4 separate regions of the Homo sapiens genome follow, and all the other regions are linked to region 3. Evidence: fine-mapped expression QTL. A gene starts in region 3. Each other region holds a variant in brackets. All regions are shown on one strand. Distances are between the middles of the regions.

The links. PIP is the estimated chance that this variant, and not a neighbour inherited with it, causes the effect. A credible set is the group of variants that fine-mapping cannot tell apart.
Region 1: its variant is the best candidate, but not a certain one, in a credible set for the expression of RIOX2 in T cells (TOPMed, PIP 0.54).
Region 2: its variant is the best candidate, but not a certain one, in a credible set for the expression of RIOX2 in whole blood (INTERVAL, PIP 0.57).
Region 4: its variant is the best candidate, but not a certain one, in a credible set for the expression of RIOX2 in whole blood (INTERVAL, PIP 0.59).

The regions. Positions count from the first base shown.
Region 1 is chr3:97,846,955-97,855,282 of GRCh38, forward strand. The region is part of intron 2 of CRYBG3 (crystallin beta-gamma domain containing 3); the gene reads left to right. All of the region lies in intron 3 of LOC105373994 (a long non-coding RNA gene), which reads right to left. Among named protein-coding and RNA genes, the nearest start is that of CRYBG3, 29 kb to the left of the region's middle. The variant C/T (reference allele first, on the strand shown) is at 5,071.
Region 2 is chr3:97,902,285-97,910,612 of GRCh38, forward strand. All of the region lies in intron 15 of CRYBG3 (crystallin beta-gamma domain containing 3), which reads left to right. Among named protein-coding and RNA genes, the nearest start is that of RIOX2, 66 kb to the right of the region's middle. RefSeq lists enhancers at 7,578-8,168, 8,169-8,328. The variant C/G (reference allele first, on the strand shown) is at 3,934.
Region 3 is chr3:97,968,680-97,977,007 of GRCh38, forward strand. It overlaps RIOX2 (ribosomal oxygenase 2), which reads right to left and starts at 3,752. Exons shown (of 10, transcript NM_153182.4): 1 at 3,702-3,752. It overlaps LOC124909398 (a long non-coding RNA gene), which reads left to right and starts at 3,974. Exons shown (of 2, transcript XR_007095976.1): 1 at 3,974-5,131; 2 at 6,187-6,443. RefSeq lists an enhancer at 2,967-3,226 and a silencer at 3,497-3,936.
Region 4 is chr3:98,011,296-98,016,295 of GRCh38, forward strand. It overlaps GABRR3 (gamma-aminobutyric acid type A receptor subunit rho3), which reads right to left. Exons shown (of 10, transcript NM_001105580.3): 5 at 1,049-1,272. Among named protein-coding and RNA genes, the nearest start is that of GABRR3, 22 kb to the right of the region's middle. The variant T/C (reference allele first, on the strand shown) is at 1,934.

The DNA of each region.
Region 1 (8,328 bases), 120 kb before region 3:
AAAGCATGGCACCAACATCTGCTCGGCTTTGGTGGAAATCATAGCAGAAGGCAAAGAAGGAGCAGACATGTCACATAGCAAGAGCAGGAGCAAGAGAGAGGGGAAAGCTGCCACACACTTCTAAACAACCAGATCTCACGAGAACTCACTCACTATTGCAAGGACACCACAAAGCCATCCATGAGGGTTCTGCCCCCATGACCCAGACACCTCCCACCAGGCCCCACCTCCAACATCAGGGATTATATTTCAGTGTGAGGGTACAAACATCCAAACTGTATCACCAGTTATATCTGTTCTCTTCCTGTCTTTGTACTTATAACTAAAAACAACAACAACAAAAATACTCTTTTGCTGTCATTTTAGAGTATTTTGTTCAAAAGGAAAAAATCAATGTGTATGTTCTATCCACAGTGTTAAACAGAATTTGTATCCCTTTGTGTGTAGTTGAAAAAAGCAAATCTCAAATTAAGTCACTTGACACAACTCCCACTGATAATGAACAGAGGCAAGAGAATTCAGAGGCAGTTATGTACCATGATTCTTCCTATTCGTGTACTGAATTTTTAAGCTATATTCATAAACTTCATTTATCAAAAAGAAATCCTATTAAAACATAAAAATAACAGTGGCAGTAAGTCTTTTTCCAGAAATGAACCATGAGCTAAATAAGATTATTATATCTGGACCGCAGGTTATAGATTCTCCAACCCAGGCCTCAATACATCAATGATTATTATGCATATTCTCCATAGCTTGGCATCTGCCTTATATGAAATCTACCACTGGTCCCATTTTAGAAATGCTGCTCATGACTAATCATGCAACTTTGTTGAAGGATTTAGCATCTTTTAAGAGGAAGTATTTGGTGTATGCCTGTGATATTCTTGTAAATAAAATGAAATTAATAAGTATTAACTTACTGCATATCAATATCAGATATTTATGACACATTACCCTTATTTCTAATAAGTAAATCACTTATTACAAAGAACCGCATTTTTTGTTGCCACTGTTTAATAATTGACATGTAGAAATGGAAGAATTGTAGCCCAAGACTATTTCACTGAGGAAGAATGATCACTAATTGTTCTTTACATTAATGCCCGTATTCAGAATACAGAATTATGTAGTAAGATGAATATTTTAAATATTTGCATCTGTTCATATTTTGATTTTATGTAGCTCCTCTTTCCTTATTAGGTTTTCAACTCTTTCTCAGTGAGAGTAAAATGGTAGTCAAATTTAAATGTGTTAAATGTTGTCTTGGTTAGAGGGAAATTAATTACTGAACCAATTTTTAAAATATGTATGGCTTTAGTGTATGCTTGCTATCTTTGTTTGTTTGTTGTTGTTTTTTTGAGATGGAGTCTCGCTCTGTCACCCAGGCTGGAGTGAGTGCAGTGGCGCGATCTCGGCTCACTGAAACCTTCACCTCCTGGGTTCAAGCGATTCTCCTGCCTCACCCTCCCGAGTAGCTGGGACTACAGGCACGTGCCACCACTCTCGGCTAATTTTTTGTATTTTTAGTAGAGACAAGGTTTCACCGTGTTAGCCAGGATGGTCTCGATCTTCTGTCCTCGTGATCCGCCTGCCTCAGCCTCCCAAAGTGCTGGGATTGCAGGCATGAGCCACTGCACCCAGCCTGTTTGTTTTCTAACAGACAGGTCTTGCTATGTCTGTCTGGCCTCAAACTCCTGGGCTCAAGCAATTCGCTCACCTCAGTCTCCTGAGTAGCTGGGACTACAGACAGGCATACACCATTGCTCCTGGTGTCTGCTGTCTTTTTTTCTCAGCAATGCAAATAGTTGCAGCAGTATCATGTCAGTTTAACGTACAGATTTTTATACGTCTCTTTTTCAAACATAACAGTGCTCCCACCCCAACAATAATTGTACCTGCAACCCTGTGTATAAATAGATTACAGCACAGTTTTCCCTGTTGATGGTGGGAATGATTTGCCTGGAGCTTCACAGTCAGCCACTGTTCTCTGCCCCTGCCATTCCTGGCACCTCCTTGGAACAGTTTTGAAATTACATGTGTAATGATGGAAAGAACACAGTCTTTGTAACCAGATATGCCTGGACTTAAATCCTAGATCTTCCAGGTGGTGGCTTGGTAACTTTGGGAAATTTATTTAACCTCTCTGAATCCTGGTTTATTGATCTGTAGTAGGGCGGGTCCTTATTTCATAGAGGTGTTTTAGAATTAACTAAGATAACATGTTAAGTACTGTACAATGCCTGATACAGAGTAGGCACTTGGTAAAATGATTGCCTTCTTGCCATATAAAGTCTGGCTAAAACTTAGAAATACTGTGAATCTTTGCTTGAAAATGGTGGTGATTTATTCTGGGTGAATAGTATAGAAGGCACATATTTGAAATATTGATTCTGCATAACGTTTGAGAAGAAGGTACATACAAGAAGGCATACCATATTCAACTTTAGCTGGAAGTCAAAATCTTGCCTCTTGATTGCTTCTAAAAAAAAAAAGTGAGTGCTACTGGAGTGCCCGAAATGGAAAATGCGCTGTGTGTTACTGTGCTGTCCAGTTGACCAAATGGACTGTCAGGGCTTAAGCCTGTCATTGTGGCTGATGGTAGTCTGGGCACTTGACATCTTGTAGTTATTGAATTGATTGTGTTGTAAGGTATCTGGTTTGATTTGCAGCCACTTCAACTATGGTATACCTGGAATGTTCCTACATTGCGGTATGATGGAATATCTTATCAAAATGGAAACTGAATATGAAGGAACATGTATGTACTCTAGATTTTTGTGAGAAAATTTGCCTTTACAGGTGTCAGATACTGATTCTGGAACACGAGAGTGAGCGCCAGAAAGCTCTCAGAGAATCAAAAGCATTTGTTATTCTGGCCCAGTGCTTTTGCTGAAATACTTATATCATAACAGGAGGGAATGGCTTTCCTGCCATTCCTTTTCTTGTTCCTTTCTCTTCTCTCTTTGTATACCTGCCCTGGTTGATTTGATTTCTGCCTGCATCTTGGCTAGTGACTAGCTCATATATGTTCCTTTAGCCCAGCATATATCGTGAGCTTCAGGGTGATAAAGCCTGCTATTTCACGGACCTCTCCTCTCAGATGTCTCTGAGTATAAAGTTTGACATACTCAAAGTTGAACTCATTTTATTTTAGCTTCCTGCTATTTCTGGAAGTACCACCACACTACCCAATCTTGACACCTGGGAATGAATCTAGTGTTTTATCTCCCTTCCCATTGAACTAAGGCCCATCAACGGCCCTTCCTTCATACGCATACCCATTGATACTATATAACTCATACTTTTCTTATTTAGATCAGCAATTTCACGCATATTTTTTCTCTGATACATATGAGAGGTAACTGTTTTGGGTCACCTGTGGTTAAGGGCACTTACTTTAAATAGTACATATAACTACATATCTTTATCAAAAATTATATGGATTTGAAAACAGTGAAAGTAACACGCCAGATATAACTTTAATTCTATACTAGAACATTTTTAGAAGGTAAAATTTTAGCTTTTAAAATAATCTTGGTAATAAGTTATTAATTACATCCTAGAACTGATCATAACACTGATGTGTGATGATATAAAAGTTGCAAATAGCTTATTGTTTTAAACTATAACCAGCTGCATTAAGGTAAGGTAGTTGCCTACCTACCTTGCCTGTTGTCATTTTCTAATGAAAAGAATAACTCTGTGATAACGATCTAATGTTATCTTTGAAGCAAAATTACTTTAACAATAGGAGTATAAACAGTTCATCTTTACAAATTTAGTTGTAAAATCCATTTATTGAAAAATAATGACATGAATATATATCAGTACTCACTGAGGAGTTAATCAGACAACCCACCACGATGAAATCCTTTATAAAGGTACTGATTTTGATTTAAGATTTTAGCATCAGCCTGTAATCCCAGCACTTTGGGAGGCTGAGGCGGGTCAATCACTTGAGATCAGGAAATGGAGACCAGCCTGGCCAACATGGTGAAACCCTGTCTCTATTAAAAATAAAAAAATTAGTTGGGCATGATGGGCGTGCGCCTGTAATCCCATTTACTTGGGAGGCTGAGGCAGAAGAATGGCTTGAATCTGGGAGGTGGAGGTTTTGGTGAGCCGAGATTGCACCACTGCACTCCAGCCTGGGTGACAGAGCGAGACTGTCTCCAAAAAAAAAAAAAAAAAAATTTTAGCATCATTTAAGCTGTAATTCAAGATAGCAGCAATAATAAACTAATAAAGCATTTTTCTCAAAATTGTGAATTTCAAGTATTGGTGGTGGAATTTCAACTTTTGGCAAAATTTCCAAGTAATACGCGGCAGCCAGATGTCTTAGTAGAACATTAACTAGAATTATTTAATAAGGAGTGGGTTTTAGTTTATGAATGCCAAATTTTAGTTACCGTTAATAACTTCAGTAATAATCCTAGTCATGATGAAAGTATGTAAGATTATTGTTTACCTACACCCTGTGGTGTCAAGGCAGACATATGATATTAGGGATATACACTGGAAGAACGTAAATGTAATTTCCGTCCTGAAAAACTGGAATTGTAGAAGGAATTTTCCAGGCAAAGAGAGCAAGGGATAAGTCCCAGCAGTGGAAATAGCATTCTGCAAAGATACACAGTAGTGTGAGAGAAAGAAAGGTAGGGAGGGAGAGAGGAAGGAGGAGATAGTGAATAGTAATGCATGTGAAGACAGTAGGCATTGCAAGCATTGTGAGTGGTAAGAGATGAAATTGGAGAAAGCCATGGGGGCTATATCCACCAAGACCTTGAAGGCAATGCCAGGGGGCTTGGATTTTATCCTGATGGCAATGCTCAGCCATTGGAGGGATTTAAGAATGATCATACTTGGCTTCTAGAAGATTGCTGTGGTTTTTGTCTGGAGAACATAGTGGGGGATAACAGATGTGGAAGCAGCAAATCCGGTTAGGCCACCGATAACACTATTCTAGGGGGCGCAGTTATGGTGATGGTGTCCTGATGTTTTCTCTGACTTTAACAAGTGGGAATTTTAAACTTTATAGAAGAAGGAAGAAAGGAGACATAGCATGGC[C/T]AAGTTCAGTTTGGAATGTTTTGAGTTTGAGGTCCAGTGAAGCATCCAGGTATGGAGATAGATGTCTGGTTGGTAGTTTAGGAGTCTGAGCTAATCTGAGGATCATCATCTGAATATTTGAGTCTGTGGGCAAGAGATTTCATAAGAGCATGAAGGAAAAGCTGATATAGGCTGGAAATTGGAGAAGCATGTTATATGAGGGATGGCTACAAGAAGTGAATGTGAAAGAGATGGAGAAGAGTATTCAGAGAGTAAGAAGGGAAACCTCAGAGTGATGCCATGGAATCTAAAGGAAGAATGGTTTTCAGGAAGAGATTCAGTCTCACATTCTGCAGACACATCATATAAGATCAGGACAGAAGAACAGTCCATTGGAGTGATTAGTCGTTAGAATGGTGTCCCTGAAAGGTCATGGTTAGGATTATTGGGGAGGTAGCCCAATTGTCTGGACTTAGGAAGTGATTGGGAGTAAAGGAAAAGAAACAGGGAGGGTTGGTAACTCCTTTGTAACGAGGTTAGTAATGAGGACAGAGGAGAAGGCTGTCTCTGGATATACTTTTGACACTTAGATTAATTCCATACTTAGCTGTTGTAAATAGTGCTGCAATAAACATGGGTGTGCAGATATCTCTTTGACATACTGATTTCCTTTTCTTTAGATGTATATTTAGAAGTGGGATTGCTGGATCCCATAGTAGTTTATTTTTGGTTTTTGGAGCAACCTCCATACTGTTTTCCATAATGATTGTACCAGTTTATATTCGCACCAACAGTGTATAACAGTTCCCTTTTCTCTACATACTCACCAGCATTTGTTACTTTTTGTCTTTGTGATAGTAGCCATTCTAACTGGGGTGTGATATCGCATTGTGGTTTTGAAGTGCATTTCCTGGATAATTAGCAATGTTGAGCATTTTTCATGTACTTGTTGACTATTTGTGTGTCATCTTTGATAAATGTCTGTTCAGATTAATTGCCCATTTTTATTTCTTCTAATTATTTTAATAGTTTAGTAGCACAGGTGGTGTTTGGTTATATGGATAAGTACTTTAGTGGTGATTTCTGAGATTTTGGTATACCCATCACCCAAGCAGTGTACACTGTACCCAATGTGTAGTCTTTTATCCCTCATTCCCCTCCCACCCTCCCCCCAAAGTCCCCAGAGTCCATTTTTATCATTCTTATGCCTTTGCATCCTTTTAGCTTAGCTTTCACATAAGTGAGAACATATGATGTTTGGTTTTCCATTCCTGAGTTACTTCTCTTAGAATAATGGTCTCCAACTCCATCCAAATTGCTGCAAATGCCATTATTTCATTCCTTTTTATGGCTGAGTAGTATTCCACAGTATATGTACACACAGACACACACACACATACAATACACACACACACACACACACACACACACACACGTTTTCTTTATCCACTCGGTTGATGGGCATTTAGGCTGGTTCCATATTTTTGCAATTGCGAATTGTGCTGCTATAAACATGTGAGTGCAGGTGACTTTTTCATATAATGACTTCTTTTCCTCTGGGTAGATACCCAGTTGTGGGATTGCTGGATAAAATGGTAGATCTACTTTTAGTTGTTTAAGAAATCTCCGTACTATTTTCCATAATGATTGTACTAGTTTACAGTCCCACCAGCAGTGTAAAAGTGTTCTCCTTTCACTGAATCCGTGTCAACATCTATAATTTTTTGATTTTTTAATTATGGTCATTTTTTGCCATACTTAAATATTGTGGTATCACAATCGTGGTATCACAATTGTGGTTTTGATTTGCATTTCCCTGATAATTAGTGATGTTGAGCATTTTTTCACGTTTTTGTTAGATTTGCTTTTGGGTTCTTAGTGATGAACTCTCTGCCTAAGTCAATGTCTGGAAGAGTCTTATGGATTTTATCTACTAGAATTATTATGGTCTCAGATCTTAGATTTAAGTATTTGATCCATCTTGAGTTGATTTTTGTATAAGGTGAGAGATGAGGATCCAGTTTCATTCTTTGACATGTGGCTTGCCAGTTATCCCAGCACAATTTGTTGAATAGGCTGTCCTTTCCCCCACTTTATTTTTGTATGCTTTGTTGAAGATCAGTTGGCTGTATTTGGCTTTATTTCTGGGTTCTCTATTCTGTTCCTTTGGTCAACATGCCTATCTTATACCAGTACCATGCTGTTTTGTTAACTATAGCCTTGTAGTATAGTTTGAAGTCAAGTAAAGTGATGCCTCCAGATTTGTTTTTTTGTTGTTGTTTGTTTGTTTTTTGCTTAGTCTTGCTTTGGCTATGCTTTGGCTATGTGGGCTCTTTTTTGTTCCATATGAATTTTAGGATTGTTTTTTCTAGTTCTATGAAGAATGATGGTGGTATTTTGATAGGAATTGCATTGAATCTGTAGATTACTTTTGGCAGTATGGTCGTTTTCACAATATTAATTCTACCCATCCATGAGCATGGGATGTGTTTCCATTTGTTTGTGTCATTGATGATTTCTTTCAGCAGTGTTTTGTAGTTTTCTTTGTAGAGATCTTTCACCTCCTTTGTTAGGTATACTCCTAAGTATTTTTTTTTTTTTTTGCAGCTGTTGTAAAATGGATTGAGTTCTTGATTTGTTTCTCAGCTTGGTCGTTGTTGGGGTATAGCAGTGCTCCTGATTTGTATACATTGATTTTTTTTTATCCTGGAATTTTACTGAATTCATGTATCAGATGTAGAAGCTTTTTGGATGAGTCTTCAGGGTTCTCTAGAAACACGATCATATCATCAGCCAACAGTGACAGTTTGACTTCCTCTATACGAATTTGGACCCTAAATTTCTTTCTCTTGTTTGATTGCTCTGGCTAGGACTTCCAGTACTATATTGGATAAGAGTAGTAAGAGTGGCATCCTTATCTTGTTCCAGATCTTAGCAGAAAAGTTTTAACTTTTCTACTTTTACTATGATGTTACCTGTGGATTTGTCATATATGGCCTTTATTTCATTGAGGTACATTCCTTATATACCTATTTGTTGAGAGTTTTTATCAAGAAGGGATATTAAATTTTATTAAACGTTTTTCTGTTTCAGATGATCAAAAGGTTTTTATCCTTCATTCTGTTGATGTGATGTTTATTGTGTTGTATATGTTGAATTGTCTTTGCATCATTGGGATAAATTCAACTTAATTATGGTATATAATCTTTTTTATGTGCTGTTGGATTTATTTTGCTAGTATTTTATTGGAGATTTTTGCATCTTGTTATTCTAGGGTAA
Region 2 (8,328 bases), 66 kb before region 3:
GCCAGAAAATGTATGTGTGTAGGGATTAATATACATTATGAGTGTTATGGTGATTAAAAATATTGTTGCTGACCTGGAAACATTATGATGAGATATGGCTTATTTGAGATATTGGTGGAACATCACTTTTTATTTTTTAATTTTATTTATTTTTTGTTTTGGGATTAGGAAAGTTTTATTTTATTTTAATTTTTTGTCTTTATTTCTTCTAAAAAAAAAAAGCGGGATACATGTACAGAACGTGCAGGTTTGTTTTATAGGTATACGTGTGCCATGGTGGTTTGCTGGACCTATTGACCAGTCCTCTAAGTTCCTTCCCCTCGCCCCTCACTCCCCAGCAAATCCTGGTGTGTGTTGTTCCCTTCTCTGTGCCCATATGTTCTCAATGTTCAACTCCCATTTATGAGTGAGAACATGCAGAGAACACCACCTTTTATTGAGAAGATTTTTTTTTCCTGAAGACTGAAGGTTGGTCGCTATGTCTAATTAGCAACTCAAGATATACAGGATCGCTATAGAATTCTTCACCATTAGCAAGTGACTTTTTTTAATTTTTCCCCCAAACAAAACAAAAACCAAACAGAATATGTATTATCTGCATGTCGTCATCATCTCTCTTACAGCAAGTCCTGAATATCTGAAATCTAGCACTAGATTAAATCTTATAACAGTGAATTTAGTTTTCAGAGGAGGTTGTAGTTAGGCATCATTCTCTAGAAATTCTAACCAGTTCTCCCCTTTGACTCAGCCAAGTACCTTTTGTTTCTAGAATCTTTTTAAAGTCCATTTCCAGATATAATTAAATGTTTGGATTTATTTAAACATTGAGCCCCTGTTCCATTTTATGCATGATTCTCACCAAGAAAAGCAACTAGGCGTTTTCTTATATTGGATAATTTAGCCTCACTGAATTTTAAAGTGATCACAGGATCTGTAATAATTGTTGCTACTGTTTTCATGTATGGGGGATAGGAAAATCACAGCTTTAGGCAAATACAGTAAGATTCACAAGCAGTAAAGAGAAAACACTTCTTTGTGGCACTTTAACCAGATCATTTTTATAGGAGCCAAATCACAGAAATACTTAGGAAGAATTATTTCAGTAAAGAAAGCCTTTATGGTTAATAAGGGAAATGAAATCATTGTAGAATATATAACCAATATGAGAAATATATAACACTACAATATGAGAAAGATGTGATGTAATAGAAGAATGGAAATAAGACTTTTCCTTAATAATCAACATATTTCTATGAGGGAGGCTCAAAGGGCTAGAGAAAGTCTTATTTAGACAGGGAAGAAAGTTTCTCATAGAAACTATTTTAGTATTGGAGTAACTAAAATTACATTAAAAATAATGCTGATATTGTAGAATAAGTGAGCACAGCTGTGTTTTGTCAGTAGTTCATTGCATTTTTAGTTTGTCATATTAAAGATATATATTACCACATATTGTTAGTATATAAGTGAAAATTATGTAGCAAAAAGAATTTCTGTAAAATCTTCATAATATAGTGGAGATAATTTCTGCTCAATACTGGTAGTTCTAAGAAAGAAATACAATAATACATGTGAAAAGCAAACCAGAGGAATACTTTTTTTCCTTCGCTTCCATTTCCAGTTGGGGAGCTGTTAGGGATTGAGCCGTACCAACATGGCACAGAAGGATGGGTGTAGTCTGGAAAACACTCATCTCTTATTTGTCAATTTGCCTCGGTTTTAAGCAACCTGAGTTGTTTTGTATATTTGTTATCGATTGTTCTGTAAAGGTAGCCAACATGGTCATTTATCCAGCTAGTTTTTCCAAGGACTGAATTTCTCCAAGGCTCTGTCCTTAATTTCACCAACAGTAGAAACCACAAGTTAATTATTATAATCAGCAAGCTCAGAGTTGGTTTCTCTATGGACAATCCTCAGAACATTATTATGAGAATTGTTCTATTTTGAGGATTGATAAGGTGATCAAAGTGAGGCATATTTTTGTAGAATTGGTCTAATTCTGGGTGAATCATATACCATATCTCATCTAGTCAACTCAGATAAGCATTTAACCCAGTTTTTAAAGTTTGGACAAAGATTATTTTAACCCATCAAATCAAGAGATACTTTATAACATTATTTCTGCGTGTGTATATGAATTTTAATTGATTTTTCCGGGTATGAAGACTGAGACAAAAAACTGGAGGTGGCTACTGTATATACCATCTGAAATATGCTTCACTGGCAGTATCAGTAGTCCAGGATTTGATGTTTCATGGCTTCATTGTGAAAATGTTGAAGTATAAATCTTCAGCTCAGCAGTATACAACTAATAAACAAACTGGGAATGTAGTTAGTGAACAAGACAACCTGTCTCTCTTCTCATGCGGCTTTTCTTTTATTTTTATTTTTTTTATTTTTTATTTTTTTATTTTTATTTTTTTTTAAGTTTCTGAGTCTTTTTTTTATAATCTTTTTTTTATTATTATTATACTTTAAGTTTTAGGGTACATGTGCACCTTGTGCAGGTTAGTTACATATGTATACATGTGCCATGCTGGTGCACTGCACCCACTAACTCGTCATCTAGCATTAGGTATATCTCCCAATGCTATCCCTCCACCCTCCCCCCACCCCATGACAGTCCCCAGAGTGTGATATTCCCCTTCCTGTGTCCATGTGATCTCATTGTTCAGTTCCCACCTATGAGTGAGAATATGCGGTGTTTGGTTTTTTGTTCTTGCGATAGTATAGTTTACTGAGAATGATGATTTCCAATTTCATCCATGTCCCTACAAAGGACATGAACTCATCATTTTTTATGGCTGCATAGTATTCCGTGGTATATATGTGACACATTTTCTTAATCCAGTCTATCATTGTTGGACATTTGGGTTGGTTCCAAGTCTTTGCTATTGTGAATAATGCCGCAATAAATATACGTGTGCATGTGTCTTTATAGCAGCATGATTTATAGTCCTTTGGGTATATACCCAGTAATGGGATGGCTGGGTCAAATGATATTTCCAGTTCTAGATCCCTGAGGAATCGCCACACTGACTTCCACAATGGTTGAACTAGTTTACAGTCCCACCAACAGTGTAAAAGTGTTCCTATTTCTTCACATCCTCTCCAGCACCTGTTGTTTCCTGACTTTTTAATGATTGCCATTCTAACTGGTGTGAGATGGTATCTCATTGTGGTTTTGATTTGCATTTCTCTGATGGCCAGTGATGATGAGCATTTTTTCATGTGTGTTTTGGCTGCATAAATGTCTTCTTTTGAGAAGTGTCTGTTCAAGTCCTTTGCCCACTTTTTGATGGGGTTGTTTGCTTTTTTCTTGTAAATTTGTTTGAGTTCATTGTAGATTCTGGATATTAGCCCTTTGTCAGATGAGTAGGTTGTGAAAATTTTCTCCCATTTTGTAGGTTGCCTGTTCACTCTGATGGTAGTTTCTTTTGCTGTGCAGAAGCTCTTTAGTTTAATTAGATCCCATTTGTCAATTTTGGCTTTTATTGCCATTGCTTTTGGTGTTTTAGACATGAAGTCCTTGCCCATGCCTATGTCCTGAATGGTATTGCCTAGGTTTTCTTCTAGGGTTTTTATGGTTTTAGGTCTAACGTTTAAGTCTTTAATCCATCTTGAATTGATTTTTGTATAAGGTATAAGGAAGGGATCCAGTTTCAGCTTTCTGCATATGGCTAGCCAGTTTTCCCAGCACCATTTATTAAATAGGGAATCCTTTCCCCATTGCTTGTTTTTCTCAGGTTTGTCAAAGATCAGATAGTTGTAGATATGCGGCGTTATTTCTGAGGGCTCTGTTCTGTTCCATTGATCTATATCTCTGTTTTGGTACCAGTACCATACTGTTTTGGTTACTGTAGCCTTGTAGTATCGTTTGAAGTCAGGTAGTGTGATGCCTCCAGCTTTGTTCTTTTGGCTTAGGATTGACTT[C/G]GCAATGCGGGCTCTTTTTTGGTTCCATATGAACTTTAAAGTAGTTTTTTCCAATTCTGTGAAGAAAGGCATTGGTAGCTTGATGGGGATGGCATTGAATCTGTAAATTACCTTGGGCAGTATGGCCATTTTCACGATATTGATTCTTCCTACCCATGAGCATGGAATGTTCTTCCATTTGTTTGTATCCTCTTTTATTTCCTTGAGCAGTGGTTTGTAGTTCTCCTTGAAGAGGTCCTTCACATCCCTTGTAAGTTGGATTCCTAGGTATTTTATTCTCTTTGAAGCAATTGTGAATGGGAGTTCACTCATGATTTGGTTCTCTGTTTGTCTGTTGTTGGTGTATAAGAATGCTTGTGATTTTTGTACATTGATTTTGTATCCTGAGACTTTGCTGAAGTTGCTTATCAGCTTAAGGAGATTTTGGGCTGAGACAATGGGGTTTTCTAGATATACAATCATGTCATCTGCAAACAGGGACAATTTGACTTCCTCTTTTCCTAACTGAATACCCTTTATTTCCTTCTCCTGCCTAATTGCCCTGGCCAGAACTTCCAACACTGTGTTGAATAGGAGTGGTGAGAGAGGGCATCCCTGTCATGTGCCAGTTTTCAAAGGGAATGCTTCCAGTTTTTGCCCATTCAGTATGATATTGGCTGTGGGTTTGTCATAGATAGCTCTTATTATTTTGAAATACGTCCCATCAATACCTAATTTATTGAGAGTTTTTAGCATGAAGGGTTGTTGAATTTTGTCAAAGGCTTTTTCTGCATCTATTGAGATAATCATGTGGTTTTTGTCTTTGGCTCTGTTTATATGCTGGATTACATTTATTGATTTGCATATATTGAAACAGCCTTGCATCCCAGGGATGAAGCCCACTTGATCATGGTGGATAATCTTTTTGATGTGCTGCTGGATTCGGTTTGCCAGTATTTTATTGAGGATTTTTGCATCAATGTTCATCAAGGATATTGGTCTAAAATTCTCTTTTTTTATTGTGTCTCTGCCTGGCTTTGGTATCAGAATGATGCTGCCCTCATAAAATGAGTTAGGGAGGATTCCCTCTTTTTCTATTGATTGGAATAGTTTCAAAAGGATTGGTACCAGTTCCTCCTTGTACCTCTGGTAGAATTCGGCTGTGAATCCATCTGGTCCTGGACTCTTTTTGGTTGGTAATCTATTGATTATTGCCACAATTTCAGATCCTGTTATTGGTCTATTCAGAGATTCAACTTCTTCCTGGTTTAGTCTTGGGAGAGTGTATGTGTCAAGGAATTTATCCATTTCTTCTAGATTTTCTAGTTTATTTGCGTAGAGGTGTTTGTAGTATTCTCTGATGGTAGTTTGTATTTCTGTGGGATCGGTGGTGATATCCCCTTTATCATTTTTTATTGCGTCTATTTGATTCTTCTCTCTTTTTTTCTTTATTAGTCTTGCTAGCGGTCTATCAATTTTGTTGATCCTTTCAAAAAACCAGCTCCTGGATTCATTAATTTTTTGAAGGGTGTTTTGTGTCTCTATTTCCTTCAGTTCTGCTGTGATTTTAGTTATTTCTTGCCTTCTGCTAGCTTTTGAATGTGTTTGCTCTTGCTTTTCTAGTTCTTTTAATTGTGATGTTAGGGTGTCAATTTTGGATCTTTCCTGCTTTCTCTTGTGGGCATTTAGTGCTATAAATTTCCCTCTACACACTGCTTTGAATGCGTCCCAGAGATTCTGGTATGTTGTGTCTTTGTTCCCGTTGGTTTCAAAGAACATCTTTATTTCTGCCTTCATTTTGTTATGTACCCAGTAGTCATTCAGGAGCAGGTTGTTCAGTTTCCATGTAGTTGAGAGGTTTTGAGTGAGATTCCTAATCCTGAGGTCTAGTTTGATTGCACTGTGGTCTGAGAGATAGTTTGTTATTATTTCTATTCTTTTACATTTGCTGAGGAGAGCTTTACTTCCAAGTATGTGGTCAATTTTGGAATAGGTGTGTTGTGGTGCTGAAAAAAATGTATATTCTGTTGATTTGGGGTGGAGAGTTCTGTAGATGTCTATTAGGTCCGCTTGGTGCAGAGCTGAGTTCAATTCCTGGGTATCCTTGTTGACTTTCAGTCTCGTTGATCTGTCTAATGTTGACAGTGGGGTGTTAAAGTCTCCCATTATTAATATGTGGGAGTCTAAGTCTCTTTTTAGGTCACTCAGGACTTGCTTTATGAATCTTGGTGCTCCTGTATTGGGTGCATATATATTTAGGACAGTTAGCTCTTCTTGTTGAATTGATCCCCTTACCATTATGTATTGGCCTTCTTTGTCTTTTTTGATCTTTGTTGGTTTAAAGTCTGTTTTATCAGAGACTAGGATTGCAACCCCTGCCTTTTTTTGTTTTCCATTTGCTTCATAGATCTTCCTCCATCCTTTTATTTTGAGCCTATGTGTGTCTCTGCACATGAGATGGGTTTCCTGAATACAGCACACTGATGGGTCTTGACTCTTTATCCAATTTGCCAGTCTGTGTCTTTTAATTGGAGCATTTAGTCCATTTATATTTAAAGTTAATATTGTTATGTGTGAACTTGATCCTGTCATTATGATGTTAGCTGGTTATTTTGCTCATTAGTTGATGCAGTTTCTTCCTAGTCTGGATGGTCGTTACATTTTGGCATGATTTTGCAGCGGCTGGTACTGGTTGTTCCTTTCCATGTTTAGCGCTTCCTTCAGGAGCTCTTTTAGGGCAGGCCTGGTGGTGACAAAATCTCTCAGCATATGCTTGTCTGTAAAGTATTTTATTTCTCCTTCACTTATGAAGCTTAGTTTGGCTGGATATGAAATTCTGGGTTGAAAATTCTTTTCTTTAAGAATGTTGAATATTGGCCCCCACTCCCCTCTGGCTTGTAGGGTTTCTGCCGAGAGATCCTCTGTTAGTCTGATGGGCTTCCCTTTGAGGGTAACCCGACCTTTCTCTCTGGCTGCCCTTAACATTTTTTCCTTCATTTCAACTTTGGTGAATCTGACAATTATGTGTCTTGGAGTTGCTCTTCTCAAGGAGTATCTTTGTGGCGTTCTCTGTATTTCCTGAATCTGAACGTTGGCCTGCCTTGCTAGATTGGGGAAGTTCTCCTGGATAATATCCTGCAGAGTGTTTTCCAACTTGGTTCCATTCTCCCCATCACTTTCAGGTACACCAATCAGACATAGATTTGGTCTTTTCACATAGTCCCATATTTCTTGGAGGCTTTGCTCATTTCTTTTTATTCTTTTTTCTCTAAACTTCCCTTCTCGCTTCATTTCATTCATTTCATCTTCCATCGCTGATACCCTTTCTTCCAGTTGATTGCATTGGCTCCTGAGGCTTCTGCATTCTTCACGTAGTTCTCGAGCCTTGGTTTTCAGCTCCATCAGCTCCTTTAAGCACTTCTCTGTATTGGTTATTCTAGTTATACATTCTTCTAAATTTTTTTCAAAGTTTTCAACTTCTTTGCCTTCAGTTTGAATGTCCTCCCGTAGCTCAGAGTAATTTGATCGTCTGAAGCCTTCTTCTCTCAGCTCGTCAAAGTCATTCTCCATCCAGCTTTGTTCCGTTGCTGGTGAGGAACTGCGTTCCTTTGGAGGAGGAGAGGCGCTCTGCTTTTTAGAGTTTCCAGTTTTTCTGTTCTGTTTTTTCCCCATCTTTGTGGTTTTATCTACTTTTGGTCTTTGATGATGGTGATGTACAGATGGGTTTTTGGTGTGGATGTCCTTTCTGTTTGTTAGTTTTCCTTCTAACAGACAGGACCCTCAGCTGCAGGTCTGTTGGAATACCCTGCCGTGTGAGGTGTCAGTGTGCCCCTGCCTGGGGGTGCCTCCCAGTTAGGCTGCTCAGGGGTCAGGGGTCAGGGACCCACTTGAGGAGGCAGTCTGCCCGTTCTCAGATCTCCAGCTGCGTGCTGAGAGAACCACTGCTCTCTTCAAAGCTGTCAGACAGGGACATTTAAGTCTGCAGAGGTTACTGCTGTCTTTTTGTTTGTCTGTGCCCTGCCCCCAGAGGTGGAGCCTACAGAGGCAGGCAGGCCTCCTTGAGCTGTGGTGGGCTCCACCCAGTTCGAGCTTCCTGGCTGCTTTGTTTACCTAATCAAGCCTGGGCAATGGCGGGCACCCCTCCCCCAGCCTGGCTGCCGCCTTGCAGTTTGTTCTCAGACTGCTGTGCTAGCAATCAGCGAGACTCTGTGGGCGTAGGACCCTCCGAGCCAGGTGCAGGATATAATCTCGTGGTGTACCGTTTTTTAAGCCCGCCGGAAAAGTGCAGTATTAGGGTGGGAGTGAACCGATTTTCCAGGTGCTGTCCGTCACCCCTTTCTTTGACTCAGAAAGGGAACTCCCTGACCCCTTGCGCTTCCCAAGTGAGGCAATGCCTCTCCCTGCTTCGGTTCGCGC
Region 3 (8,328 bases):
TTCAAATTATTTAAATTTCCTGAGACTGCAAAATTCTATCTTAAAGTCCTTTCCCTCTGGGAAGGGACTCCATCACTTTCAACAGATTCTTAAGGAAGTCCCTATCTCCTGACAAGGTTAAGAACCACTGTACTTATAAAAACCAAAATTTCTGAAAGACTTGTTATTTATAAATGGTATAGTTTCCTACTTTGGTGAGTTATCAGAATTGCAAGAATACTGTTTTCTGTTCTTTTGTCATTATAACTAAGCAGTATTTCAGCTACACTGTAGACTAAGTGGAATTAATGTTCTGGCCTGGGAAGTAAGCATCCTGGAACGATGTGTTGCATACTGTGTGACGTGTTGCAACTTATAAAAGAAACTTTAGATTGAAACCCAGATGTAAACTGAACAAATTAAGAAAGGAAATGTCAAAATATAAAACCCTCTAAACAGCTCCATTCCTTCAAAAGACCAGGTGCTTTTGATAAGGAAACACAGGACATGGTGGAAGACTAACACAAACTGATACTACAGGAGAGGGGTAAAGCTTGAAGCTTAGAAAAAAAAAATAAACTTTAGTGTTTAGGATATGTGGTCAGTAAGACACATTTTCTGAAAATGTTTCCTTTAAGTGAAACAGACCAGCTTGAATTCTCCAGGAAAGAATTAAGGCTTCAGGAAGGCACAGCATTGCTAGTACATGGAACTCTCAAGTGATGGAGAAATACAAAGAGATAGAAAAATGGATTCGGGAAGGGGTACTGCTTATGCAGAAGACGTTCCATAGCAGGCCTGACTGCTATCCTTTGAAAGTGCAGCTTGTGGCCGATGTCTGAGAACTTAAGATTTTGGGAGAGTTTCCACCACCATTAACTGATAGGAGTGGCTCACCATGCCTAAAATGTACAATCATTACAGTTTATACCAACACCTGCTTTCCTCTGGGAGTCTGGAAACGTTGGTATGTGCCAGGCAGGGGTGGCCTAAGTGAAAAGCCCCCAGTAAAAGCCCTGGGCACTGAGTCTCTAACAAGCTTCGCAGGTTGGCAACATTTCACAAGTGTTGACACAACTAGTTGCTGGAGCAACTGAGCACAGCCAGTGTGACCGCTCGAAGACCCTTGGAGCCTTGCACTTGGTATCCCCAGAACTTCACCCATGTGCCTCTTCCCTTTGCTGACTGTGCTTGATATCTTTTCCCTGTAATAAATCAGCCGAGTCCTCCTAGCAAATTGCTGAACTAAAGATGGCCTTGGGGACCACAGCACATTGCTCACGTTTAATTTTTAAAAACTTAGATTGGTTTATTAGGTTTGTATTACTAAAGGCACCCTATAGAGTCATTTTATATTCAGCCACACATCTCTTATCTCTCACAATTGGTCAGTTTAAAATTCATTTAAGGGGAGAGAGCAGGAGGAAGATGCAAACGAAAAGCTTTTCTTTAAGCATAATATATGAATACAGTATAAGCACATTCACCAGAAAGTGTGGCTAATCAAAGAATGCAAAACACTTAAGCCAAAATAAAATCACTTAAAAGAATCTTTCCCATCTACAATCACTAACAAACCCCAATACTGTATAACAAATGCTTTCCTTAGAATATAAATTTCACTACCCATACTGCCAAAAGTTACATCATTTGTTTCTCTGTGTTCATGTTGAAATGATTTGAGGCTCAGTTAATTGGAGCCTAAGCTTAGAGGTTTCTGGGCAAATACATTATTTCTCTGATTCTCACACTACTCATACTGTAAGACAACCATTCCTCTTAACAGCTTTCTAGAGCAGAGGGGAGAATAGATGAAGCATCCTACCACATTAAACATACAAAAGTCTTAAGGTACATATCATAATTTCGGAAACAGCAAGAAGTAAAACACATATCTTAGAATCCAATACTATAGTAATTAAAGAAGACAATGCTTTGTCTAGAATAGTACAGCCAACACAACCTTGCCCATAAGCCTTAGAGACCACCCCAATAGGAGTAAATATTTCTGTAAAATCACAGAAAAGTTTTTGAAGAGCAATTGTTTTCCATTTGAGTTGACTATAAGCATTAAATGTAAAAAGACTAAAAGATTTACAGTTCATACTTTGGTGACTACCCCACAGATAAACCCTATAAGAAAATCAATGTTGACAACCATACTATAGGCAACAGACAGACAGTCACTATATTTTAAAGGTACCCTAACCTCCTTTTCTATAATATTTGAGGACATGAAGACGTGAGGAAGCTCTTGAAGGAAAGGATTTGTATATCCCCGGAAACAAGCACGGTGTGGTACATAGGAGGTCCTCAAGAAATGTCTGCTGAATTTTTCACATTTTCATCTTTTGTCTGTATACAATTTTGGAGACAAACCACAAAGGCCTTACACAAAACAGTTACGGAAAAAACAGATGGCCTGTGCAGAGGGGATTATTTTTCTGATTGCAGCTGTCACTTCAGGATTCAAGAGTATCGTAAAAGCTAAAAGGCACTTTAGACATCAGTAGTTATTACTAAATCGGGGAGGGAAGTATGAATTTCTACATCCCCTGGGCAGTTTTACAGAATGTAGTTCAGAGTTACCAGCAAGGTTGTTAGCATGCAAATTTCTGGGCCCTCATCAAGCCCACTGGATTGCCACTTCTGATGGCTGAGGCCCATAATCTGCATTAACGTAATACGCTCTCTAGATGAATTTTAGGTCCACTAATGGAGGACAACAGTCAAACGCAGCTCAGTTAAACACACGGCTGTCAGAAATTATATATTGCTTGTAACAAGGTTGCCCAGACTGATCTAAAACATTTCTTTTTGGCTCAGAGATATGTTAATCAATCCAGAGGGAAAACTGGTTCTCCTATTGACCTAAAGGAGTGATCAGCAGTTATCTTTTTAGTCTGATTTTAGAGAGGAAACGGACTATACCTCAATGTATTTTCGTGACCATGAGGTTACAAAGCTTGATGTCCAGGAGGCAAAAACCAGTACCAGCAGAAGAAGCTGAGTAAATCAGGTTCCTCTGCTCAAAGATGAGCCCAGTGACATGAAACCCGAGGCACCAGATTTACAGCTAATGAGTGGCGAAATCAGATCCTCTTCCTCCCAGTCTATCCTTCCTGAAAACAGTGAATAACCTGGTCTCAGTAACCTGTTGGACAACCCAGCTGTCGGCCAATCGTTGCGGAATTATTTGCTGGTAAATGAATTGGAAGCATATGATGTAATGCAGCTGCCCTTCTCCCCACACACCTGAACTTCAGATTTCACAGCTGTAGAGCGTGTCTCTTAGGCCCGACATGACGCCCGGCGGCGCAGCCCACGTGGAAGCCGTGCTCGCACAGGCAGTTCTGCCACCACCGGGCGGAGGCCGGCACCACCCTCCTTGCTAAGCCTCCAAACTTTCCGTGCGCTCGTCACCGGTGTCGCGACCATTAGCAGGCCACGTGTGCGACTCTCTGTAACCAAGGCTTCCGCGACCCTACCCCTAGATCCGGGCCCCACCCACCCTGCCCCAGTCTCCGGGGAGGTGGGACGCCTGGGAGCGCGTCCCAGGTCCCGCAACCACAGCGCCGGCCACCGAGGCTTCTCGCCGACCGACAGGTCTCCCAGACCCGCACCCGAGCCCGGGTGCCTAAAGCAGCAGCGCGCGCCCCGCGGGATCGGGCACTACCCGGCCTGCCCCGGCGCTGGGATGCCCACGAGAGCGCCCCACTCACCCGGCACGGCCTGTTGCTCGCGGCCGCGAGCCCACTGCGTTGCGGCGCAGCGGCTGGAGGCGGGGCAGCGTGGGCACGCTCCGGGCCGTGCTCCAGCCCCCGCCCCGCCCCGCCACGCCGGCCCGCAAGTGGTGGCAGCCCGGAGGCCTGGCTACCCGGCGGTGTTCCGCGTTCACGCCCGGGCGTTTCTTTAGTCCATATGGAAGGAAATAAATGGCCTTTTTTTTCCTCTTTTTTTTTTTTTTTTTTTTTTTTTTTTTTTTTTTATGGTATGTGAGACAAGGTCTCACTCTCGCCCAGGCTGGAGTGCAGTGGTAGCGATCTTGGCTCACTGCAACCTTTACCTCCCGGGCTCAAGCGATCCTCCTGCCTCGGCCTCCCAAAGTGCTGGATTATAGGTGTGAGCCACCCACCCGGCTCTCCTTTTTTTTCTTTTAACTTGGGGCGGCAGGAGAGGATTTGAGAGAGCGTTTTGGTGCAACTCCGTTCCTTTTATGAATAGAGAAGCAGGCCTGAAGAGGAATACCAGCGGTGCAAGTTTAGGGAGTTGGTGGTCCGGGTTCTCCCATGGCTTTCTTATGGGCTGTGTGGCTACACAATGCTGATTTGTACAAGCCGAGTGTCATTTATATCATCTCGCTCCGGGAGAGAGAGTCAATCCTAGTTTTAAAAGATACTGGAAATTCGTTGCGACTATGGCTATAGAAACAGAAGAAATGCAGTTATCTGAGTCCTTTCAGCCTAACACTCCCTGCTTTGGAACATTTGGTTCCAGTCAGGAGGCACAAATGAGGGAGCAGGGAAATCAGTGGCGGGCCTGTGCCTTTCTTTGCTCTGTAGACAGCCAGAGGACCCAGAGGAAGTCGACATTTCGTTCCGTCAAGGTGACTGAGACCAGTGGCTGCTTCTAAGGATCAAGTGGCACATGAACAAATGGGAACAAAGTACACCCTTGTCTAGTATTTGTCTAAAACTAACAATAATAGCAAGTCTTGAATTGAGTTCTTCCTGGCTATAAGGCACCACGCTAGGTGTTTCAAATACTCCTCACTTCATCCTCACTACAACCTTGCAATTACCTCCATTTTACAGTTGAGGAAACTGAGTCAGGAGAGGTTAACTAACTTGCACAAGATCACACAGCTAGGAAGATGCAGAAACAAGATTAGAGCCAAACCAGTCAGTCAACTGTTGGTCTTTTTCACGTTTTACTAATACTCGTATAACTAGTAAGTTTCCTGGCAGGTTCCAGTTGGAAAAACTCGAGGGTAACATCAAATTTAGCCCTTACAGGGTAAAAAAGAATAGTCAACAGCAAAAATCTCTAGTTGATATGATATTGGTAATGTACTTCGCTCTTTATTTTGACTGCAAGACATCTACTCAAGATAATATAGAATAATATTGCTGTTCCCGGGATTCAGATAAAGGTAAATTCTCACACGTCCACCACTTGGAAAAGCAGTACGGTTGTAGAAAAAAGTTATAATGTCAACACAAAATACCATTTTCTCAGCATATAAAATGGCCGCAGGATGTCTAACAGAACAAAAGTACATATGGAAGTCAGCTTTGCAGGGGGAAATCATACATCTTGTGTAGGAGTTCCTCTAATGCAAAATTAGTATATCAGTATGTTCTCTCTGATTTTTTTCATTATAATTCCGATTTCTTAGCATAGCAAGCAAAAAAGTCATGATAGTTCCATTTTCAGACCTAAACAGTGCCCATCATTCCTGTGAAGAAAAGGAGAAGGGGCCAGGTGCGGTAGCTCACGCCTATAATCCCAGGACTTTGGGAGGCTGACGCCGGTGGATCACCCGAGGTCAGGAGTTCAAGACCACCCTGGCCAACATGGTGAAACCCCCGTCTCTAACAAAAATACAAAAAAATTACTCAAGCATGGTGGTGCCTGCCTGTAATCCCAGCTACTCAGGAGGCTGAGGCAGGAGAATTGGTTGAACCAGGGAGGCGGGGTTGCAGTGAGCTGAGATTGCACCACTGCACTCCAGCTTGGGCAACAAGAGCAAAACTCTGTTTCGGAAAAGAAAAAGAAAAAGAGAAGGAAAGTTAGTTTGTGCTTGGGTGACAAGAGCGAAATTCCGTCTAAAGGAAGGAAAGAAGGAAGGGGCGGGGAGGGAGGGAGGAAGGGGGAGGGAGGGAAGGAGGTAGGGGAGGAAGTAAGGGTGTGGTGGGATGGTATGGGAGTGGAGAATGGCTTGCAACCTTGCCTGAGAGGAGGAAGAGGAGGTGAGGAAGTAAGGGTGGCATGGGATGGGAGTGGAGAATGGTCTGCAACCTTGCCTGGGAGGCTTCTAGAATATATGGCCTTCCTACATGTATTGTTTCTGGTATTTTTTTTTTTTTTGGAAAAGTTCTTCCAGAGGACAAGATGCAGACTGCTATCCAGTCCCCACCATAGGTTCATTTAAAAGTCAGTTATTTTGTTTCTGTAATTAATTTTCTCATGAAAACAATGTTGTAGATGGCAGCTCTCAAGATCTGTCCGGAAAAGTCTAGAAGCCTCCAGATTTCTAATCAACAGACTAGCGCTCCTCCTCTGTAACTGAGGAACAAGATGCCAAGGAGACAGGAGAAAGAAGAGAATTCCCTTCATGTCTCGGCCATAAACCCTGAAACAGACTTGTCCATGAGCCTTGTAAAATAAGTTACATTTCTGCAGAGGTGCTTGACGTTCACACCGTTTGGATTGCTTTATTAAAAGACTCTTTTTAGAGCCAAGTTTGTCTTCCTCTTCTGTGGTCTCCTAGGCTCTTCTTCCTGTAGAGCTTTTGGTTTTTAGCCACCTCATTGTGGCTGTGCACCTGTCCAGCCTGGGCATCAGGCTGCAAAAGTGCAACCCTGTCCTACTCCTACCTCCAGTCACAATGATGCTGGGTGCAAAAAAATCTAAAAATGGTGGTGTGTAAATGTACTTTTTATGGTTATTAGATCTAACTCTGGAGGGGCCAGGTATATGAATTTGGAAAACTCTCTTTGCTAACATTCACTTTCCTCATTTATAAAGTAAGATTGCACCAGATGTACTGTGATATCCCTATTGGCACTCAAATTCCATAGGCTTAAGGGTCTGTGCTCCAATTTTCAAAGGGCATTAGAAGAAGAATCAGTCTGATTGGAATTACCTTTCAGTCTATAAACATTGAAGAACTTATAAAATGATTAATATTTGTATTTTTGTTGTAAAGCTTTATTTTATAATGCTACTGTGTCATACGATTCCAGGAAACACACATTGCTTTAAACTATGTGAGTACTGCCCCCTATGTGTTTGTATTCACTTTGGTCCAGAAAATATCTAAACCATGTCTTTCTAGTATATGACTTTAATATTTATACCACTATATTGGGCTAACTTTTTAATATAAGGAAACAGACACATCAAGGTTAAGGAACTTGCTCAAAAATACATCATTTGATAGTCCATTTTTTTCATTTGGGCTGCTATAAGAAAATATCTAAGACTGGGTGGCTTATAAGCAACAAAAATGGACTTCTCACAGTTTTGGAGGCTTGTTCTCTGGTTCACAGAGGACACCTTCTAGCTGCATCCTCACGTGGTAGAAGTGGGAAGGCAATTCTGTGGGTCCTCTTTATAATCCCATTTATAAGGCTTTACCCGCGTGACATAATCTACTCCCAAAGGCCCCACCTTCCAATCACATTGGTGATTCTGTTTCAGTATATGAATCCAGGGTGGGGACAAACATTCAGACCATAGCACCCATACTGCCTATCAAGTAATATTCTTTGGACCTCTGTTTATGTTTCTCCAAAAGTGGTTAATTTCACCTAACTCGGAAAGATGCTGTGAGTTTCAGGTGAGGTGGAGTAAGCAAAAGAGTTTTAAAACTGTAAAATGCTATTGAGTGTGAGAGGCATTACTGTTAAATCCCATATGACATCTTGAACATGATTCCATGGAATGAATTAAATGCAGTTGGGCCTTTTATACATGCATACTTCACTTAATTTACACAATTCATCAAGCAGAGTACCTTCAAATTGATGTCATATCACCATGGGATAATCTTGGTGTCTTAGTACCTTCAGAAAAGTCAAATTTGTTTAACAATGACCCAGGCCGAGGTCTTTCAAGACTATAGTAGTTACGATACAGCTCATAGAACTCAACGTACTTAACTTGATAACAAGCATACCATCACCGTTTGGAATTATATTTTGCATATTTATAAAACTATGATTTAAACTCCTTGGGAGCAAGAAATGTGCTTCTTTAATTCTGAGAACTGCAACAGAGTTCTTCACAGAGTAGTTACTCTGTTTACAAAATTGAATTGGGTAAGCATTCCTATTTTCTTTTCTTGCTTAGAGTCCAATTTCTTTTACAGCCTGTGCCTATAGGAAAGTTGGTGTTAGGCTGCATGACTTTTCTTAAATGATTCTGCAGACCTCCTTTCTCCAGCAACCCAGCACTTGCAGGTGAAAATATGCCTCAGGATTTTCCAATGACTTTCCCTTACAGAGATGTTTTCTTACTTAACATGTTATCATAAATCTTGAAATTGACTTGCCCAATTCTTATAAAAATATGTACTCCTGCAGAGGTGCTTTCTGCTCATACTCTTTGGGTTGCTTTGTTAAA
Region 4 (5,000 bases), 41 kb after region 3:
ACAACAGAAATTTATTCTCTCACAGATTTGGAGGCCAGAACTCTGAAATCAGTATCATGGAGCTGAAATCAAAGTGTCATAAAGGCCCTTCACTCTTAGCTCTAGGGGGAAAATCCATGTGTCCTATAGCTTCTGGTGGCTGCCAACATTCCTTGACTTATGACCACATTGCCTACTCTTCTTTTGTATGCATGAAATTGTCCTCTACCTTTCTATTATAAGCATACTTTTGATTGCATTTAAGTCCCAACCAGATAATCCAGATAATTTCTTCCCTATTTCAAGATCCTTAACTTAATCACGTCTGCAAGGATTTTTTTTTCTTTTTTGGTCATATATGATAAGCTTCACAGGTTCCAGGAATTAGGACATGGATATCTTTTGGGGTATCATTTCTTCACCCTACTTTAGAATTTTTCTAAGGTTTGTAGGACATTAAAAAAAGCTGAGTTGCTTGGGTTTACCAAACATTTTTAGAATTATCCATGATAAGCCACTCAATATGCACAGAACTCATTTGACTAAAAGAAAATATGGAACATTAAAAAGGGAGGACTGTTATAGCAAAGTGTTGGAATGCACATTTTAAAATTAAAAGAAAAGAAAAAGAGAGCAAATTGGTGTTAGCTTGAATGATAGCCATGCCTTCCCATGAAAAATGAAGGAGACAACTAAGAAAAGTTATTTAGCTAATCCAAGGTTCCAAAACTGCTTGGTGGGGTGCCAGGGTGGGGTGGAGTTGGTGAGGAGGAAAACAGGCTTGTTTACTTATAATATTGTGTGCCAGATTTTAGGATTTCCATAATTCAGCTCATTCTATTTGTCCAATCGACATATACCCAGAGTGGGTAGAGTTAGAATAGAAAATCATTTTTTAAAATCTGGATGTTAGAACCAGGGGAAAATCACATCTTATGCTTGTGTCCCAATCTCCAGCAGCATTAAACAGACAGCAACATTGTGAGTTTCATCTGAAATAAGCATCATCAGCTTTGGTGCAGATGGCTGCAGTACAGGGAAGCCAAAGGCGATAGGCAGCTTTCCTTACCTGAGACTTAGGAGGACGTTTCCATCAGGGTGTACGCGCAGCATGATATTCTCCATAGTTGTATCATGGATGAAGGATCTTTTAGAGTGGACAAAAAAGATATCAGGCACCCAGATCTTTCTGGTCAATCTATGATCAAATGTCATGCTTTTGTTTGCTGTGCTAGGAAAGGAGAGCCTCTCGTCTTTCCAGTAATGCCTGAGATAAAAAGTCATTGTAAAGTCCTAGACAGAGAGAAAAAGAGACCAAAAAAACCAGTAGGAATATGGTTCAGGATGACCACTCAACACTGTTAGTCCCAGGACTCATTCCTATGGTGTTAATGACTTTTAAGTGAATGGTTAATATTGTAGTTTCAAGTAGATCTAGGATGAAGCTAAGGAGGTTATGCTTTGAGCTTCTCCTTCACATGGAGCCTAGTGAACGTTGAGAATTTCTGGGAGTTATAATAGAATATTCAAGTTGGGGAAGGGGAACCAGGTTATAAATGGGAAGCATTTCTGTGTAAGCATTCTGGTAAATAACCTAAAGAGATTTCAGAAGAAAGGAACCTGAAACTTTACTATTTTATTGTCCATTATTTTATTGTGACTTCCTTTTTTATTCTAAATCACTTTTAAAACTGATTTTGTATTGATACTCATGTTATTTTTGTTAAAGAAGTTTTCCCAAATCGAATAAACTACAGTCCCATAAAAACATGGATACAGTGTTTATTAGAGCTATTCGTGTAAAGCAAGTTGTCAGAAGTCCTGGGACAGAGACAGAATCATCCTCAGCTTGAGAGATAGAAAGCATATTGTGAAATGGTAGTTCTCAAAGTTTAGTGTGCAAAGACTGACTTTTGAAGTTTGTTGAAATGGCACATTTCCCAGAAGCTAGTTC[T/C]CAGAGATTCTGATTCAGTATGGCTCAGGGATTTGAATTGTTACTGTTTATTCTTACATTGTAAGAATGTATTGATGAGAGGAAAAAACTGTACTAGCATTATATTAGAAAAAACAGTTTATTTAGTTAATAATTTGAGTTTTGTTTGGCTCTCAGATGTTCCAAATATTTGGTTGTTTGAATAGAAACTCCCCCAGCTTCATCCAAATTATTGGCTGTTGGACAATTACAATTTCTTACTTCCTACTATTTTGCAATTGCTTACTTCTTACTATTTCACAATTGCTTACTTCTTACTATCTTTTTTTCCAACACTAATCAAATTTTTCTTGAACCATTGCATATCATAGAACTTTGGCATTTATTATACAAACAAAGGATACATTTCAGTAAACTCTGAATGAGTCACCAATTAATTATGAGCTAGTTTGTCCTAGGTTCAGAATAGAGCTATACTGATTTATGGCTCTGGATTAATCTAGGAACATTAGCCATGTGTAATTTTGAATTAGGGTGAGGGCAAATAAACAGAATGGTTGCTTCATTAACATAATACAAGGAATTGTGTGGGTTACTGCACAGAGAGCCTTAATAAGCATATATTTAGAATTAGATGCTCAGTGTGATCTGAAGTTCACTGGGCAAACACTGAGTTTATGCAGTCAAATAGCAGACGTTGGTGCATGTCTGTGATATAGCAAGTCACCACACGCTGGCACTATCAGGAGCAGGCCAAACAGCATTCTGGGAGGAGGGTGAGACAAATCTTAAATAGATCAAAAGTGAAGTTAGGGCGGATGAGAGAGTAGAAAGATGATAAATGAGAAGCAAAAACAAATAAACAAACCAACAAAAAAACCAACACTAGGGGGAAGGGTGAATCACTGACAATCAGAAAGCATTTTCAAACTGGGCATGTGAACCCAGTCCAGTTTTATCTGATACGGACTAGCACAGCTAACCTTATTCAGGAGGTAAAGATGATGTCCAGTTCTGGGTGCTGCTGGTTAGAAACAATAAGGACTTTAGATGCAAACTGGGTCATTCAGAAATGACTTGAATAATACGCCAGGAGAGGGGAAATAAAAGCTTGTTCTCAGAGCACAACAGGCTTGGGGAAGTATCATTCAGAAATGACTTGGATAATATGTCATTCAGAAATGACTTGGATAATATTCCAGGAAAGGGGAAATAAAAGCTTGTTCTCAGAGCACAACAGGCTTGGGGAAGTATCAGTAAAAGAGCTGCCTTTGGGTAAGAAAGGGGCAAAATCTTCTAAACCAATCTTTTTTGAGTAGCGAGTCCTATTAGTGCTATTCCCTTTTGCAGGAGAATGGCAAATGAATCTTTAAGACTTACATTGAGCTGAAATAAATATTGAATTAGATAATGATAAGGATGAGGCAGACCATTAGCTGAAGAGTTTACAGACTGAAACAAGGTGTAATGGGTCATAGAAGATTTTGTTTAGAACTTTCTAGAATTTTTATGTGTTCTGAACTTTTAGTGATTTGGAGGAATCACTATAAATAAAAATATGAATTAAGGATATAGATGAAAAGATTATTTGATTTTAGTGATTGATATTTTCTAGGTCCCTCCCTCAACAGATCCCTGTTTGTTCACTTTGTCTCTCTCTTTTTATCTTTAATTGCAGTATTTGCATTATTACAAAAATAATACACAGAATCTAAATTTTAAATTTTAACACTCTGAAAATCACTATATAAGCTACAGTTTATGTATCAACAATACTTATTCTAAAGCATATATAAAAACAACTTTTGAAAGTTTTATAAGAACACACATGTAAAATATTCCAGAAAATGGAATGAAATTCAAGGATTCATGTACGTAAAAATGGCCATCAAATGAGTGGATTGGATAAACAACAAACTAAATCTTTTCAGATGGAAAATGGAGTTTGAAAAGAAAATAACTTAACTTTTCCCAATCATGGAAGAGCTACTCCTTGGTTTTATTAAAAAGAGTCTCACTCTGCCACCCAGGATTAATTGCAGTGGTGTGATCTTGGTTCAGTATAACCTCCACCTCCCAGGTTCAAGTTATTTTCCTGCCTCAACCTACTGAGTAGCTGGGACTACAGGGATGTGCCACCACACCCAGCTAATTTTTTTTGTATTTTCAGTAGAAACAGGGTTTCCTCATGTTGGCCAGGCTGGTCTCGAACTCCTGACCTCAAATGATCTGGCCACCTTGGCCTCCCGAAGTGCTGGGATTATAGGCATGAGCCACTGCTCTTGGCCCAAACATTAAATTGTTTACTACTTTGGGTAGAATGGAGATAAAAAACTAAAATTCAAACCAAATACAAAATTGAAACCAAACCAAAACATATTCATAAGCTGCATCTTACTAGTAGGTACCAGTTAGGGCCTTTATCATTAACTCCTGAAAGTGGTGTAGTATTGAAAGAAAAGGAAAGAGATCCATCTAAAGAGGATGACGGAAAAGATAGCAATTGAGGACAAAGAAATGAGATGGAAAAAGCAATTTAAATATAAAGACACATAGCCATTGGGTAAGAACACGTGATAGAGTTTGGATGTTTGTTCCCTCCAAATGTTGTGTTGGAATTTGATACCCAGTGTTGGAGGTGGGGCTTGAAGGGAGGTGTATTAGTCCATTTTCACACTGCTATAGAGAACTACCTGAGACTGTGTAATTTATAAAGAAAAGAGGTTTAATTGACTCACAGTTCTGCATGGCTGGGGAGGCCTCACGAAACTTACAACCACGGCAGAAGGCAAAGGGGAAGAAAGCACCTTCTTCACAGGGCAGCAGGAGAGAGAGCATGTGCAGGGGAAACTGCCACTTTCAAATAATCAGGTCTCATGAGAACTCTTTCACTATCACAAGAACAGCATGGGGGAAACTGCCCCCATGATCAAATCACCTCCCACAAGGTCCCTCCCTCAACATGTCAAGATGAGATTTGGGTGGGGAACACAGAGCCAAACCATATCAGGAGGTATTTAGGTCTTGACGGCAGATCCTTCAGGAATAGCTTGGAGCCATCTTCTTAGTAATGAATGAGTTCTCAATT